2 separate regions of the Homo sapiens genome follow, and region 2 is linked to region 1. The links come from fine-mapping of genetic effects on gene expression. Tissue or cell type: whole blood. Region 1 holds a variant in brackets; the other region holds the start of a gene. All regions are shown on one strand. Distances are from middle to middle.

Evidence for each region. PIP is the estimated chance that this variant, and not a neighbour inherited with it, causes the effect.
Region 2: it holds the start of TNS1, and the variant in region 1 is fine-mapped to the expression of TNS1 in whole blood (TOPMed, PIP above 0.99).

Annotation. Positions count from the first base shown.
Region 1 is chr2:217,800,195-217,808,194 of GRCh38, reverse strand. It overlaps TNS1 (tensin 1), which reads left to right. Exons shown (of 33, transcript NM_001387777.1): 32 at 88-120; 33 at 3,592-8,000. The coding sequence ends at 3,736. Among named protein-coding and RNA genes, the nearest start is that of DIRC3, 14 kb to the right of the region's middle. The variant G/A (reference allele first, on the strand shown) is at 4,186.
Region 2 is chr2:217,998,782-218,006,781 of GRCh38, reverse strand. It overlaps TNS1 (tensin 1), which reads left to right and starts at 3,787. Exons shown (of 33, transcript NM_001387777.1): 1 at 3,787-3,942. The coding sequence starts at 3,910. RefSeq lists enhancers at 2,502-2,601, 4,342-4,842, 4,843-5,343.

The DNA.
Region 1 (8,000 bases):
CTTCCTGCAGAGGGTCTGGGCATGGGTGGGGCTGGGCTCTAGGGAGAAAGTACGATGATTTACCCTGAGCCCACTTTCTCTCCACAGGTGGATGAAAACAGAGGGTGGTGCCCCTGCTAAGTAAGTGTGACTTCTTACCCCTGCCCAGCAGGCTGGCCTTTGTACTTCACAGTGAGGGAAGCACGGGGCACATTTAGAAACCAGGGCTGGGGGTAGGGAAAGAGCAGCAAAAACCTTTGTGCCAAGGTCACTCAGCTTCCGAGTGAAGCTTGACCAGGCTTCCAGGCCTTTTGCCTTGTCCTGCCTCGAGGCCAGAGGCCCAGCGTCTGGTCCAGCTGCCTTCACTCTCCCAGGGTTAGAAGCAGCAGGGATGGCAGGAAGTGGACAGAAAACAGTCTTATTAGAAGCAATGGAAATGGGTCAGAGATTGCTTACATGATCTTTTCTGCCCCAATTCTAGCTGCCTTTATTTCTGCTCTTGCTTTTTTGGTGGGCTTTCCTGTGAGTCTTGTGGCCGAGCAAATCAGCCTTATCAGAATGTGGGAGCCCAGAAAGTCTGAATTCTGGGGATGGCCCTGGGACCTTCGGGTGGATTCCTCCATCCAGCAGACATGTCCTAGGGGCCTCCAAGGGACTCAGATCCTGCCTGGGTCTCTGACCCTGCCCTCAGGAGGCCCATTGGCACAGCAGATAAGACAGATGTCTAAATAGCACTAAGATGCTTCTGTGATTTTCAAACTGTATTCCAAGGATCCTAGCATCCTTGGATTGTACCTGATGTACAGAAGAGAGGGAAAGCTCTGCTGCTCCTTGCAGTTGTCTATCAGCAGTAACTAGGGTTTTTTCACAATCACAAAACCAAACAAAATATAGGCATAACCTGGGGTCTGAAGCTGACATGAGACTATCACCATGATCTGTCATCTACTTTTCACTTTGTCAGGATTATTCCAACAGCCCTATTATCCTCACTGATTGACTTTATAATAGGTAAATGTCGTGCTTTTGGATTGCTGTTTATAGCTGTAAAATACTGCTTTCACCTTTATATATGCAGACTTCATATAAGGTTGCTTTAGAAAAACAAAACGTTCAGTGTTAAAAAAATGACAGTTGCAAGGGAGGGAGAGGCAGCAAGAGAGTTCAGCTTACGTCTGGGGAGCTCATGCAGGAGAACACATCAGCACCTCAGAGAGGTGGAAAGAGCAGATATTTAAGGACGGGTCTTCAAAGACAGGTTCAATTTGGACAGGTCAAAATGAGAATGGGAGTAGGAGGGGCTATTTCAGGGGAGGGGCCTCATGGCCACCAGCCTGCAAGCTCCCCAAGGGAAGGGCCATGTCTGACACATGGGGAGGTGGTATATATTTGTTGAGTGAAGAAATGAGAGAATGGAGGCTGGAAGAGCAGAGGCAGGAGGAGGCTAGTGAGAATGCCTCAGTCCGAATGAATGGACTGACTAGTCTATCACATGGTCAGTGATGGTAGCTTAGGAGAGGCCATGTGGGATGGTGGGGTTCAGCCTTGTCCAGGCTTCATAGGGTCATCAGTGCTTTGAGTTCCTGCATTTCCCGTGTCTCTGCTGGCCAAGGCAGCAGGCTGGAACTTCCTGTTTGAAGGGGCTTGTGCTCACTCACCACAGGGCCCTGCGAGGGAAGAAGGTCAGGGACAGAAGGGAACTGGGCCCCCAAGCCTGGAAATCCCTCTTTTCCTCCTTCAGGAGCTGGTTTTGAGTTGAGCCTCCTGCTGAAGAAGCTTTGATGGGTGGGGCAGAGGCCACAGGGAGAGGCCAAGCAGGGCAGTGGGCTAACAGGGAATCATGACAGGGACGAGGTGAGGCCAGCCAGGGATCTCATGTGCAAAATTCAAGGAGATGTTAGATCTTGGGATCTTGCAAGCGCTTCCTCCTGCCCTTGCGGGCTGAGGCTTCTTGCCTGGATCTATTCCTTGTGGCAGATGACAGGACTGGGCTATTGCGGGAGCCTGGAAGCCACAGCTGAAAGAAATATCAGGGGAGGGCAGGCTCGGTGCTCCAGTCAGGTGCAGTTGCCGGGTCTCCATCCTGGTAGACACCCGCAGCCAGGGCTGGCATGCTTCCTCCCTCTGCCAGGATCACCCCCACCCCTGCTCATGGTCTGAGCCAGCTGGGAAAGGGAGGTGCTGGGGGATGCCCTGTGGACCCCAGCTCCCCCACCACCTGGGCATTACCCCAGGCCTTTGGCCCTGTTGCTCCTGGCCCCTGAAACAAGACTGGAGGAGCAGAGCTGTAGGAAATGCTGGATTATGTGTGTGTGTGTGTGTGTGTGTGTGGTGTGTGTATATGTTGTGTTTGCGTGTTGTGTGTGGTGTGTATATGTTGTGTATGTGTGTGGTCTGTATATGTATGTATGCATGGTTTGTGTGTGTGTGGTGTATGTGTGTGTGGTGGTGTGTGGTGTGTATGTGTGGTGGTATGTGTGGTGTGTGCAGTGGTGTGTGTGTGGTGTATGCATGTGGTGATGTGTGTGATGGTGTGTATGTGTGTGGTGATATGTGTGTTGTGTGTGTGTGATGTGTGTGGGTGTGATGGTGTGTATGTGTGTGGTGTGTGTGGTGTGTGGTGGTGTGTGTTGTGTGTGTGGTGTGTGTGGTGGTGTGTGTGGTGTGTGGTGGTGTGTGTGGTGTGTGTGGTGTGTGTGGTGTGTGTGGTGGTGTGTGTGGTGTGTGTGTGGTGTGTGTGGTGTGTGTGGTGGTGTGTGTGATGGTGTGTATGTGTGTGGTGCATGTGTGTGGTGGTTTGTACACACAGGCACACAGGGACCAGCAGAATCCCCCTTTGCTAACTTCAGCTGCCGTGGTCCTGCGGTAGGGAGAGGGGTTTTCATAGGAATCTCCAGCTGTCCTCATTTCCCCATCTCGCTCTAATTAGCAACATGCTGGCTGGGAGGGGACCTGAGCTCACATTCTGTTCTCTGCCCTCATATTTTTAACTCTGTTTTGCGAAGAGAATGCTGGGTCACTCCAGTCCTGCGGGTGGGGGTGGGGAACGGGTGTGGGGTCCACCTTCCCTTTTATTTTCTGGCTTCCAAGGTTCTTGAGCCCAGGAAGAATAAGTGTGTGTGTGTGGAGGGGTGTGAGCTACTTGACCTTTGTCTCCCTGACCTTGTGGTGTCTGAGGAGGCTGAGCCGTTTGCAGGCAGACAGCACTTTCCTGATTGGCATATGTGTTGTGTGTAAGAACAGTCAGTAGGGGTAGGGCTGGGATGGGCGGGGAGAGGCCTGTCTAGGAATGTTCCCATTTTATTTTGGTCTCCTCCCCACCCCTCACTATCCAGCCTTGTCAATCCTCTGCAGCTCCCCTCGCACCCCTTCAAAGGGGATTTCTGCCCACCCTTAAACAAGGTGGGACACTGTCTCTAGGACTTGGCTTGTGGTCAGGGGAGTGCACAGAGGATTCTCTTCTGCACCTCTCTGAGTCCCTGATGCTGAGGCCTGCTGGAGGGATGGGGAAGAGAGGTTGGCCTGAGACCAGCTTGCTCACCTGGGCTGCTGTCCACCTCCTGGGGTTCCACTTGCCCTTCCCTCATGCCCGTTGCCCTCTCCCGCCTGCAGGCTCTTCGGCTTCGTGGCCCGGAAGCAGGGCAGCACCACGGACAACGCCTGCCACCTCTTTGCTGAGCTTGACCCCAACCAGCCGGCCTCTGCCATCGTCAACTTCGTCTCCAAGGTCATGCTGAATGCCGGCCAAAAGAGATGAACCCTGCCCCTTGCCCAGGGCCAGTGCCATGGGGAAGGGGCTTGTGGGGAGGGGACCCATGAATCCTGACCACTCTTGAACCCAGAAGGAGGACTTTGGGCCAATTTCGGAGGAGAGAAGAAAGTGCAACGTGGGGAGAGGGAAGTGAATTGCAGAGGGGAGGGGGAAAAGAGAGAGAGAGAGAGAGAGAGAGAGAGAGAGAAAGATGGAGGAGAAGAACTTGGATTCCCCTGGGTAGATGGAAACTGCAAAAACCCAAAGCCTCCAAAACTAACCAGGTCCACCTAACACCCCCTCCCTCCCCTAAGAAGATGGATGTCCTCAAAAGAGAAGGAACAAACCTCCTTGGGAATCCACATTTTTTGGGGGAATGGAAAAGCTCTGTCTCCCTAACTCAACTGCTTTGCAAGGGGAAATCAAGCTGGGAGAATCTTTTTCTGGCCACCTGT[G/A]GGGTAGGTTGTCAAACCAAACAGAGCCACCGTGGGACATCAAGTGGAAGAACTTGTTTGCTTGAAAGTATCTCAGACCCAAGGCACCTCAGGTCTCTTTGCTGTGCCTCCACTATATTGTCGTGTGGGTGTGTGTCTGCACCCACATCCTCACACATTGATCTAGATCTGCCTTTATCCACTCGAATTATAAACAGCTCGGCTTGTCCTTGTCCCATGTGTTTGTAGACACACATGCATACTGTCCAAAGATTAGGGTTGGTGGTGGCAGTGCAGCAGGGGAGGGACAAACAACCAAGCTATGGGTGACAGAGGCTCTCTCCTGGTGCCTGCACCTGCACTCTAGTGACCCTGGGTGCCGCCAGACCCTTCTCTTCTACAAAGACCCCAGCAGGAGTGGGAGGGTCTGCAATGGCATCGCCCTGTCCTGCCTTGGCCAGAAGCCTGGAGCTTTGGTTTGAGGAGGTAGAGATATGTGTATCCATAGGAAGAGATCTGTCAGAACAGGCAGCTGTTGAGCTCGGGGTGTCTTCCCCAAGGCATGTGGCTCAGCAGCAAGAAAGGCAAGTTGCTCCTGCTGGGGCCCTGGACTCTGCCTTAGCTCCCACCTCTCAGCCTTGTTATTGGGTTTCATGCCCCTGGACCAGCCTTATCTCAGACCTGCTTACCTGCATGATGCCTTTTTGGGGGCTGGGGATTGAGTCTTGCTGCTCTGCCCAGCCCTGTTCTATTCTGCAGGGTCCCTGTGTTGGAATTCTCCCTGGGGAACCTACTTTCTGCTCAGTGAGGCTCCGGCCAGAAACCTGGAGTCCTTATCCTCCCCTCTGTAAGTGTTTTAGGGTCTGGCTTTTGCAGGCACCCTCTGACCTCAGCAGAGCTCCTGGGCCTGCTGCCTGCACACCACATCGCCTACCTACAATGCCAAAGCCTCACTGTCACCCTTTCTGCCTTGGTTTCCCTAGCTGAGCCACGCTGCCCATGCAGCAGAGGGCAGAAGGCTTGCACTTGGGCCAAAGGGCCTAAGGTCCACTGGACAGTTGGGAAAACACCTGACCACCATTTAAGGACTCTAAGCCAGAATGGAAAATTCACCAGGACTCCATTCTTAAGCCTATGCGAGTCCCCTAGAGAGAGGCATTGTACTGATATATAAATATTATATAATATATACATGAGACATACTGACAGAATCTGTAAGCTAATAAAATGTAAGAAAAGGTTAAAAAAAGAATAGGTAAATTGACAAGAAGTATTTATTGTTTTTCCATATTGCTTTATTGCCTTCCTTGGGGATAAACCAATTCCTATCCTTTTTTATATGTGTAAGTAAAGCCTGAAGTGTAGGGGGCCTTTGTTCTTGAAGCAGCCAGGGTCTCCTTGCCCTGGCCTTGGCCTTCCCTAGACTGTGTGGGGCTCAGCATTGGGAGGGGTTGCACATGTCCCAGCCTTTGGCCCCCTTACTTTTCAGCAAGCCAGGGGCCCAGCAGTCAGCTCCCAGGATGTGTGGGGAGCTGTCCCTGACTCTGCAGGCCTGAGCGAGTGTGTGAGCATGCGGGGACATGGGTGTGTATGGCACACATAGGTGCGTGTGTGTCTTTTGTATTTTTTCTCCTCCAAGGAGCTGTGTCAGTGTGGACGTTCTGTTTCAGGGAGTTGGAAAGGAGGGTGTCTGCAGAAGGTGGAGAGCAGGGGCAGAGGCCCCACTGGCCACCCCCTGCTTCCCAGAGTGAAACCTTGTGCCTGGTGACCAAAGTCCCTCCAAAGTGCTCTTCCTTCTGGGTTATTCAAGCCAAATATCTGGGTTTCCCCCTCTCCTCATTCCCTAGCAAACCCCAATTATCTTCCAAGATAGGAGATATTTCCCATCCCCTTCCTTTGTAAATATCTCATCTCCCACTGGAGAGCCCAGGAGCCTATTCCTGGCATGGATGTTCTGTCCACACTTGAGGCTGGGCGGTGTATCAGACCCTTCAAGCAGCCTGGCTGGGGCCCAGGACTGAGTCTGGGGTCAGCTTTCACGGTCGCTTTTCCCTTCCTCACCACCCACCACAGCCCACCTTGCATGCATGGCCAGCCCCTCCACTCCAGCCTGAGCCATGTGTGCCCCTGCGGGAGGACCCATTCATGCCAGAAAGCTGGTAACTCCCTCCCAGCATCCCTGCGGAAGGAGTCAGTTTCTGAGAGTGTGACTTTTCAAGGCGAATGATGGGGAAGGGTTCCCCAGTCCCCACAGTGGCCCCACCTCTGGGCCCTGCACCAGAGCCCTTCTGTGTCACGGCGGGCTGTGCACCCATGCACACACCTACGCACACACAACACTCCGCACTGCAGTATATTCTTGCCAAAGATTTCCTTTAAAAGCAAGCACTTTTACTAATTATTATTTTGTAAATGTTTATCTTCTTCTGTCTTCTCCCTCCCTGAATCTATTTTACTGTTGTTTATTGTTGAATCTGTGTGTCAGCCAGGAGAGCGCTGTCTGGCCTTGAACATGGGCTGGGATGGGAAAGGGTCTGGGAGAAGATGGGCAACAAAGAGCCAGGGAGTCATGGACATCGCAGCGACGCAGACCCCAGCAGGTTCAGTCCCGTGCTGCCACCAGCTGTCCAGCTGGGTGTCTGGAGGGAAGAGGGCAGAGGAGGGTCATGTCCCTTCAGCTGGGGGAGGGGCCCAGTGAGCTCCACGTGGCTTTTTCCCAAAGGGAGCAAGAGGGAAGGATTGGGCGAGAAAACAATGGAGAGGGGACCTGCGAAGGAAAACAGGGAGGAAGTGAGCGGTTTGATCAGCCTGCTATCACGGTGTTCTGGCTCTCTTATTTAGCCAGGCGCTTAAGGGACAGATACATCACATCCTAAGTTTGGGAAAGGCCTTTGACCCATGTCATCTGAGCGTCTCCTCCAGTAGCTCTGAAAGCTGTGGACACCAATGGCCAGGATTCCTTCTCCCCTGGTTTTTGAGGATCCCTGGGTCTTCTGAGACTGGCCAGGAGAGGGATGGTGGGGCCAGTGGTTGTGTGAAAGCAGGAGGGGCAGCCCTCCTGGACAAGTGTGATCCCCCTATAAACGGCTCTCAGGAGGTTAGTGAGTAGGAGATTCTGCCTTGTTCTGATGAGCCTGTGCAGGGGCTCCAGGGGAGCATGCTGTCCAGGGGGCACAGAAGGGTGGTGAGTGTGATCAAATCTAGTCTCACTCCCACTTTTTAGTCTCACTCCTACTTTTGTCCACCACCCCTGCCTCCTGGATCTTCTCCCACTTTTTTTTTCAGCTTTAGGACCTGGGGAGATCCTGTGAGTCAAGGCAGACACCCAATCCTGCCCCCACACTCGGGGTCCTCCAAGAGGTTGGGGGGCAGAGTCCCAGAGCAGCCCTTTACCCCAGGTCCAGGCCCTGGAATCCTGAGACTCGCGTTTCCTTGGCCAGTGGTAACACAGGACGTGTGTGCGCATGTGCAAGTGTGGATGTATGTGTGTGCGTGTGTTTTGCTCATTTCTTTAGGGAACTTGGGAGTCGGGGTTGGAGGTGCTGGGCAATGGAACTTCAAATTCAATGTCGCCCAGCAGTGAGGGGAGTCGGGAGGTGAGGCCTGTAGGCCAACCAATTGGTGGAGTCTCAGCGATAGCCCAGGTGAGAAGTGGTTCACCCAGAGGGGCAGGGTGGGGGCCTCGGGCAGATCTGTCCCTCTTGGCACCTCTGTCCTCAAATGTCCAAAATGTTGGAGGACCTCTGTTCATATCCCACGCCTGGGCTCTTGCCAGCAGTGGAGTTACTGTAGAGGGATGTCCCAAGCTTGTTTTCCAATCAGTGTTAAGCTGTTTG
Region 2 (8,000 bases), 200 kb before region 1:
ATATTTTATATAAAATATGGAGTTGAGGGTTCTATGGCAGATCAAAACATGTGGAGATGTGGGCTTGTGTTGCTGCATGCTGTAGTGGGGAACCAAGGAGTGGGCATCCCCCTCAGCTGGGGCCTGTCCTCACCAGGCCCTTGTGACCCCTTGCCCGCTCCCCTCATTGAACTTCTAGGTGACCCCCAAAGGCTGTTACCGTGACCCCTGGGCAGCTGAGCTTGAAGACCTTTCCAGCTTTAAAATGCTCTGTTACCTTCAGATGCTGTGACCAGTGGTGACAAAGGAAAGGCTTAACGCCCTGGTAGGAGAGGGGTGGACATCAGTAAGAATATTTTGGTGGACAAGAGTCAAAGGAAAGGAAGAGTGAATTGGATGGGGCTGGGGCCTTGGCCTGGGAAACTCGTGTCATCGCAGAAGGTGGAGCTGGAAGGGACCTTGGAGGCCATCAGTCCTGTTATTCTACAGGTAAAGGAAACTGAGGCCCAGGGAGGGGCCTGCCAGGCTCAGGCTCTAAGGCCATTAGCTCATTCCTGACCACACTCACCCTTCCTTCTGCCTTGGCTCCACCCTCCTCCAGCCCCAGGGCCAGCACCACAGCCCACAGACCTGACTCTGTTTCTTCAGCTGGCTGCTGAGCAGGGGGCTGGAGGGATGAGCGGAGGGAGGTCTCCGCATGCAGCGGGAAGGCAGAAATGGGGATGGCACAGGGTTGGGGCTGGGTTCTGAGGCTTCTGGGATGCCAGTGTAGAGCCCCAGCCAGTCCTCCAGTGTGTACTCCATGTCTGCTGTGTGTGAGACAGGGGTCTGGGCACAGGGTGGGGATCCCAAGATGAATGAAACCATCCAGGCCTGCGGAGAGTCTGCAGCTGGCTAGAGCTTGGGAATGGGGCATTGGCAGCAGGCAGAGGTGGCTGCAGATAGGGTGGCACTGAAATTGTGGGCAAAAGTGTACAGGCAGGGCTGCCTGAGGCCCTTTTGAAGGGAAAAGAAGGAAGGTTTGGGAAGGAGGCAGTGAATGCTTACAGTAGGAAAATATGTTAGGATCCATTGACTAATTGATTGAGTGATTGAGTCATTCTTCAACCATGTCTGGTGCCTGCTGTATGCCAGGCTCTGGGGATACAAAACACAGGACACGTCCTTGCCCGTGTGTGGGTTGGGGTGGAGACACCAGGCTGTGAAGGAGGAATAAAGGCTGACAAGCCTGGAACAGGGTCATTACACACAGTTAGAGACACCTCAGTCGGCAGAGTTTAACATTCAACAGGGAAAATGGTGGTTAATTAGCAGGAAGGACATCTTGATGATAAGCGATTAATATACAGGAGAGACCCCATAGGCTTGGAGAAGAGGGATGGGGGTATTCTGGAGGGAGGGTTTCTCCAAGGGAACCCCCAGCACTAGGGTCCCCTACTTCCATTCACAGTCCTAGCTGAGGAGTCTGGGGAAGCAGCAGGGCCTCCTCGGGCTGTGTAGGAGGCCAGACAAGTTGGTGTCACTGTGACTTGGTTTTTGGTTTGATTTTCCAGCATTTCTGGGAAGCCCCAAGGTGACTTCTCAGAACTCCAGAGAAAGCTGCCTGGAGGCGTCTTCAGTGACGCCAGCAGTGAAGGGCTGTGGGAGCAGGCAGCGGGGAGCTTGGTGTGAGTGGGCACTGGGATGTCAGGGCTTAGCTGGCTGAAGGCTTGAACTTGTCAGGGGACAAGGGCAGCCTGGCAGAGCTGGTGATAGTGGCTGAGGAGGGGCTCAGGGGCTCTCAGAGAGGCCTCCTGAAGACCACTCCCCTTTGCTTGCCTGGTGCTCCAGCCAGGGGAGACGGGAGGGTTTGCAGAGGTTTCTGTCTATGGACATCCCCAGCTGTGACTGCAGGGCCAACTGCATGTGGAACACTGGTTCATTTCAGCGTTGGCTAAAATGTCAGTGAAGCCCCAGGAGGCTTAGAGTAGGGGGTCCAGAGGGACATTGTGATCCTGGCAGGGAAGGACACTAGAGGCAGGATCTTTCCCAGCCCCAGAGCTCTGGAGGACTTGGAGAAGTATGGAGAGAGGACCCTGACTCCTCTACCGGAACAAAGACTCTTCACTCAGGTACCTGCTTTAGGAAGGGCTGGAAATTGACACTTCACTTCAGTGTCCTCCCCTGACTTCTCAGAACCACCAAACAATAGATGGTTAGTCCCTTGTGCTGTGGACAACCTGTGTATCTGAATACTGCAGTCTTTTTTTCAGATGAAGAGTCAGTGTTTCCCCTTCATTCTGGGGTTTCCCAGGTAGATGTCTTGGGTGGTCCCTGGGCTGGGAGTTGGCACAAGTGGCTGGGCAGATCCCTGTGAAAGAGGAGGCTGGTAGTTGCACGGTATGTGGTGCTGACAGACAGCGGCATGGCATGGCCTTGGGTGAGTGGGGGGGGGAGGCAGGGGATCTGTAACCCTTCGTGCATGTGGCCCCAGGGCATGTATAGCACAGTGTGCATAGGAGGCCAGGCAAGAGAACTTTTCTTGCTAAGTGACTCAGTCTAGGAACGAGGTCTCCAAGTGCCTACTCTGGGAGGGCTCTTATGTGTTGACGTGAGTTGGACTGTGTCCTTGTGTGTGTGTGTGTCCACAGGAGGGTGTGGGGCTGAGCCCTCCCTCCTTCTCCTGGACAGCTCCAAAGAACAGAGCGGGTGATTCACTGGCCCCCACCCACCCTCAGTTGGTCCAGCCAAGGCCAGAGCTCAAAGAGGAAGGGTTTTTTTTGGAGGGGAACGTGGTGGTTCCAGACAATGAAGGCCTGGGGCAGACTTTGCTGGATTCCCCCTTAGTGCTCCGTGGGAATACTTTTGGGTTTTGACCCAGCCTCCTTTCCACCCTCTAGACCCCCAACAATTGTCCCTGGGCAGAGGTGGGGGCGAGGGGAGGGGAGGGCTGGTGGGCAGGGGACACTGAGGGGAAGAAATAGGCCTGTGGAATGGTGGGAGGGGAGAACTGGGCCCAGGGAGGGGGAGAGGGGAGGAGGGGGAGGAAGTGGGGAAATGCAAACCAAATGTTGGCCCCGGGTACAGTCAAGAAAAACACACTCTCGCGGGAGCCTGGAGCGGGGCTCCCTTTCAGAAGGGCAGGAAAGGCTGGGACAGATGTTTGCAGGAAAGAAAGAAAGAAGGGGGAAAAAAAAAGAAATAGGAAAAAAATTGGAATGAAACCCACAGCCTGGGGGCAGGGCCATTCTTCCCCAGTCTCGGGCCCTATTTCTTCTGTGTTAAGGCCTGTCCTGGGCTCTGAGCTTGGCGCGTGGGCACCAGAGTCTGTCCCAGTCTGTGTGTGCAAATGCATGTGTGTTCCGAGGAGGCCAGGAAGGCAGGCACGGGTACTCAGAGAAGGGGAGGGGCCAAGGCACCCTGAGTGTGCTGATTGTGTGGGCCTGGGGCTGTCTGTTCATCCATCAGTGGTCTGGAGGGTTCCAGGAGTGAAGGCCCCCAGGCTGGTTTGCCAGGGGCGGGGGTCTGCAGTGAGGAGGGAGGACTCCAGGCCTACCAGCACCAGATCAGAAGACTGAGGAGCCTTGGTGGCACACAGGGGTTGTGTGTCCGGGGGTGGGGGGCACGGCCTGGGGGGGCCCTGCCTCTGGTAGCTTTCCCTTTTCCCTGTCCCCTTTACACCCCCTGCAAAGCAGGGTTCCTGACCCTCAAGGCCACCGGTGGAGCCTGGGAGGAGGGAGGAGAGAGGAGGCTGGGACGAGGGGTGGAGTGGGGGGAGGAGGAGGAGGAGGGAGGGTGAGCTGGAGGCAGCAGGGCGAGAGGCCCAGCAGATGCTGGCGGAGCCGGAGCAGCCGCGGACTCAGAGAGCCCTTCTGCCAGCGCCGCGGGGACTCTAGCTTCAGGGGCTCTTCACAGGCCCTGGGCGTGCCTCAGTGACGGGACCCAGCAAAGATGACGTGGATCTGTCTGTCCTGCATGCTCTGGGTAGGTCTGGCTGCTTTAGCTGCGACGTTACTCTTCCTCAAACCCCCCGCCCCCCACCGGCCCCTGCCACCTTATCCTTTTGCTGAGAGCCCGGGGTCGGGGGGTGTCAGTCTTGAAGGAGGGGCCTTTCTGTCTCTGACCTACAGAAGGACAGACTGACTTGAGCAACCCTCAGCCGGAAGACTTTCCCCACCAACAGGGCCCAGGCCCAGGGTCCCGGGTCAGTACATCCCCTGCCCCACCCCCCCACCCCCCAATGGAGTCCCAGAGCTGTAAGTGGAAGGAGGCCACAGAGAAGTTTGCTTCTCTTTAGAGCCTTTCCTCCCGACTTGCATCCTACAATGGGGTGAAAATTCTTCACCGCCCCCCCTCAGTTGCTGAGCCCAAGATCTTGAGGAGGAGGCAGTGGTGGGGCTGGGGAGCAAAGAATAGTAGTCCAAAATATTAAGTCTGGAAGAGCTGGGCTGTGGGAGAATTCTCAGAGTCCATCCCTTTTATTCCTTCTACACCCAGTTTCAGCTTCCACCCACTGCCATCCCTTCCTCCACAGCCCTCCCCTGCTACCAAGACCTCTCCATCCTGGAGGAGGGAGCCATGGCCCGCTCTTCCCCCTTTCTCTCTTGGCTCCAGGTTCAGGGAGGTGGGTTTCAGGATGGGGATGCCAGGGGGGCCAGCAGAGAGGCCTGGGGGCCACGTGGTGAAGGTTAAAAGTCTTAAGGCCAGACCTGGGCTGAGGCTCCTGGGTAAAGGGGGATGGGAGAGGGCTGCCTGCTGCAGAAGGGCTGGGGGTCAGAGGAGGAGAGGACCCCTTCCTCAGAGGGGCTCCTGTGGGGCTGTCTTGGCCAGGCAAAGGCATGCATGGGGTCAGGAGGGTGAGGAAGTCGTCCCTGGCTGAGGTTACTGTTGGGCTCTGAGAGAGTGATGGCTGGTTTGGGGGAGGGGGCTTCAGGGCTGTGATCCAGATGTGGCCTTTCCTGTCCCTTTCCTTGTTCTGGCCAGTCCTCGGGAGGGCCCTCTTGGCCCAGGCAAGCCCATGCTGGGGGCAGTTGTGGGAACACAAACTCGGGCAGCCAGGTGTCCTCTGGGCAAAGAAAGAAAGGGTGGGGGAGGGGGCCTGGAATGAGGCGGTTTGGGTGGCATGTTGGGCTGGGGTGCTGGGATGGATTGGATTAATAGATTGAGAGTGACTGGGGAGGCCTGCACACAGGATGCATTTGTGGTTTACTGGGCTGGTGTTGACATCTGGGAAATGGGAGCCTTGGCCAGGTTCGTCTCTGTGCTGAGGACAGAGGTAGGCAGGAGGGAGCTCTGCAGCAAGAAGGATGGCAGGTAGACGTCCAGGGGTGACACAAGAAGGATGGCAGGTAGACCTCCAGGGGTGACGAGCTGCTGTGACTGGAGAGAGGGCTCTATAGATCCCTTCAGCTGACTGATACTGGGAAAAGTGCCTCATCCTGGTGAGCCTCTGCTTTCCCGTTGGTGAAATGAGGATTGCAGAGAAACAGGGTACAGAGAGGTAGGGATGAAATTTTGTATCCAATTCCCCAGGGCAGTGCCTGGCAGGTAGAGTGCCCTATGGGTGTTATACCCTCCCTGAGAGTAAGGGGAAGAGTCTGGGGACCAAGGCAGCTGTGAGTGCTGCTTCCTTGAGTGTCTTTATTTTTATTTATTCATTTTTTTTTTAATTGAGATGGAGTCTCACTCTGTCACCCAGGCTGGAGTGCAATGGCATGATCTTGGCTCACTATAACCTCTACCTCCTGGGTCCAAGCAATTCTCCTGCCTCAGCCTCCCGAGTAGCTGGGACTACAAGTGCGTGCCAACATGTCCAGCTAATTTTTTATATTTTTAGTAGAGATGGGGTTTCATCGTGTTGGCCAGGCTGGCCTCGAACTCCTGACCTCAAGTGATCCTCCCGTCTCAGCCTCCCAAAGTGCTGGGATTATAGGTGTGAGCCACTGCGCCTGGCCTTGAGTGTCTTTAAGACTAGAAAAGCCTGTGTCCCTCCCCTGTCTCCTTTTCCTCTCCTCTCCTAGTCCCCATCCTTTCTAGGCTGGCTGTGATGCCCATGGCCAGGATGGGCCAGAGACTGGGGCAGTAGGGACTGGACAGAGGAAGCAGTCCTGGCACCAGATAGGACTAGGCTCAAACCCTATTTCCATCGTTTGGTATGGGCAGGCTTGGTAAAGCAGTTCCCTTCATGAGCCTCAATTTCTTGATCTGTAAAGTGCAGAGAATAATATACTCCTTGTATGGCTAGGGTGGGGAAAGAGACAATAGATATCAAAAGATCAGGTATGTAGGCATGCAGTAGGTGCTCAGCAAATGCTGGCCCCTTTCCCACTCCACAGTCTCCTGCCTGGTTCTTGGGATCCTCTGTATCCCAGACCTGATGCTGGGGGAGGATCTCCCTGGGAATGGTGTCATGGGACAGGGCTCTACTCCTTGGGCTCTACTCCTGGGCTGACTGCCCAGGGACTCTGACCAGCTACTCTGAGGCCAGGAAGTGACTGAGATAGTTCTTGTGCCCTAGAGTGAGTGCTTGCATCTATTGGTTCACATGTTCCTGTATGGGGAAAGCTGCAATTGTGTCATCTAAGAAGTAATATATCTGTAGTGCATAGTTTTAACAAGTCCTAGGAATAAAAATCACTTTATTAGCTGAGGAGCAGAGCTATTTATTATGCATAACTTGATTTTCTCATCAAGTGCTCCCATTTGCTATTACATATTCAAGTACGGTTTATTTAGAAAATAATTGCATGCCTAGCAATTGAGGCTTTTTGATGTTGTGCTGGAGGAGTTAGAGGTGGAGGCCCTTCCTTCCAGAGGGACTCACTGGTCCTCAGGAACTGGGAAGGGGCTCAGGGTGAGGCTGAAAGAGCCACCAGGCAGGGGCTGGGGGTCAAGTGCAGCTTTGGCTCTGCCCTGAGCCAGCTAAGTGGTCTCAAGCTGGTCACTCGACTTTTCTGGACCTCACTGAAATGTGGGCTCTATTCTCTAAGGCCACATCCAGCTGCAGACGATGATGTATTTTGTTTCCTGGAGTTGGTGTCCTGCCCAGTGCTAAGCACACATTTTTGACAGAAGGGTCCTCATGAGCTCTGGATTCCTTGTGCACAATTCCGGTCATGCAGACATCAATCTGACTCTTTGGTCCTGAACTCGTTCTCTCTAGTTTGGTTGACCTGTAAGGGCCTCCTGACTGTGGGTTTGGGAGGTAGGCTGGGCTGCATGAGAATCACCAGGGTCTGAAATAAGACTCTCCTTTTGCAAAGTTTTGCAAAGTAATGTGTGAGGCACAAAATTGGGAAGAGCACTGCCCTTTTATTCTGCAGTGTTGAAAGGAAGTGTAGCATGCTGGCCGAGAGTGCAATGCCTGGGCTGGATCCCGGGCCTGTCACTTGACAGCTGTGTGACCATAGGCAAGTAGTTTCACATCTCTGTGCTTTGGTTTCCCCACCTACCTATAGGGTTGTTCGGTTTTGAATGAGCTAATCCACACATACATTTAGAAAAGTGTCTCTCACATGTAAGAGCTCAAGAAATGTTAGTGCTTCTTGTAGGATGGCACATTTTCAAGGCTACCCAGCAAGTCAGAGTCAAGACTCCAACCCCATCTGCTGCATCCTCTGCCAGGCTTCTCCATTCTGGGAATGCTTTGGGGCAGGACATGTGGGGTCCGTGGGAATCAAGCCCTGAGAATGACGCATGAGCCCTAAGTCAGCGAAGAGGACTGTGGCGGGCAGCCCAGGGTCAGGGCATGGTGTTGGGGAGGTCGTGTGATGGAAGAAGCATCCCATCATTTGGCTTTCTAACCACACCCCCCACGCAGCTTTCCATCCTTTTCACGGATTATTATGGAGGGCCTGCTCTCTTCAAGCTGCTTGCACATACTGGCACATGATTGCAAGCAGGATGGGTGTTACCAAGAGGGAACCTCTGGGGGATGTAAGGGGGACCTAACCTGGACTGTAGGGAGAAGGTGTCAGGAAAGACTCCTCGGGAGGTGAATTTTAAACTAGATCTAAAGATGAATCTGGCCAGGCACAGTGGTC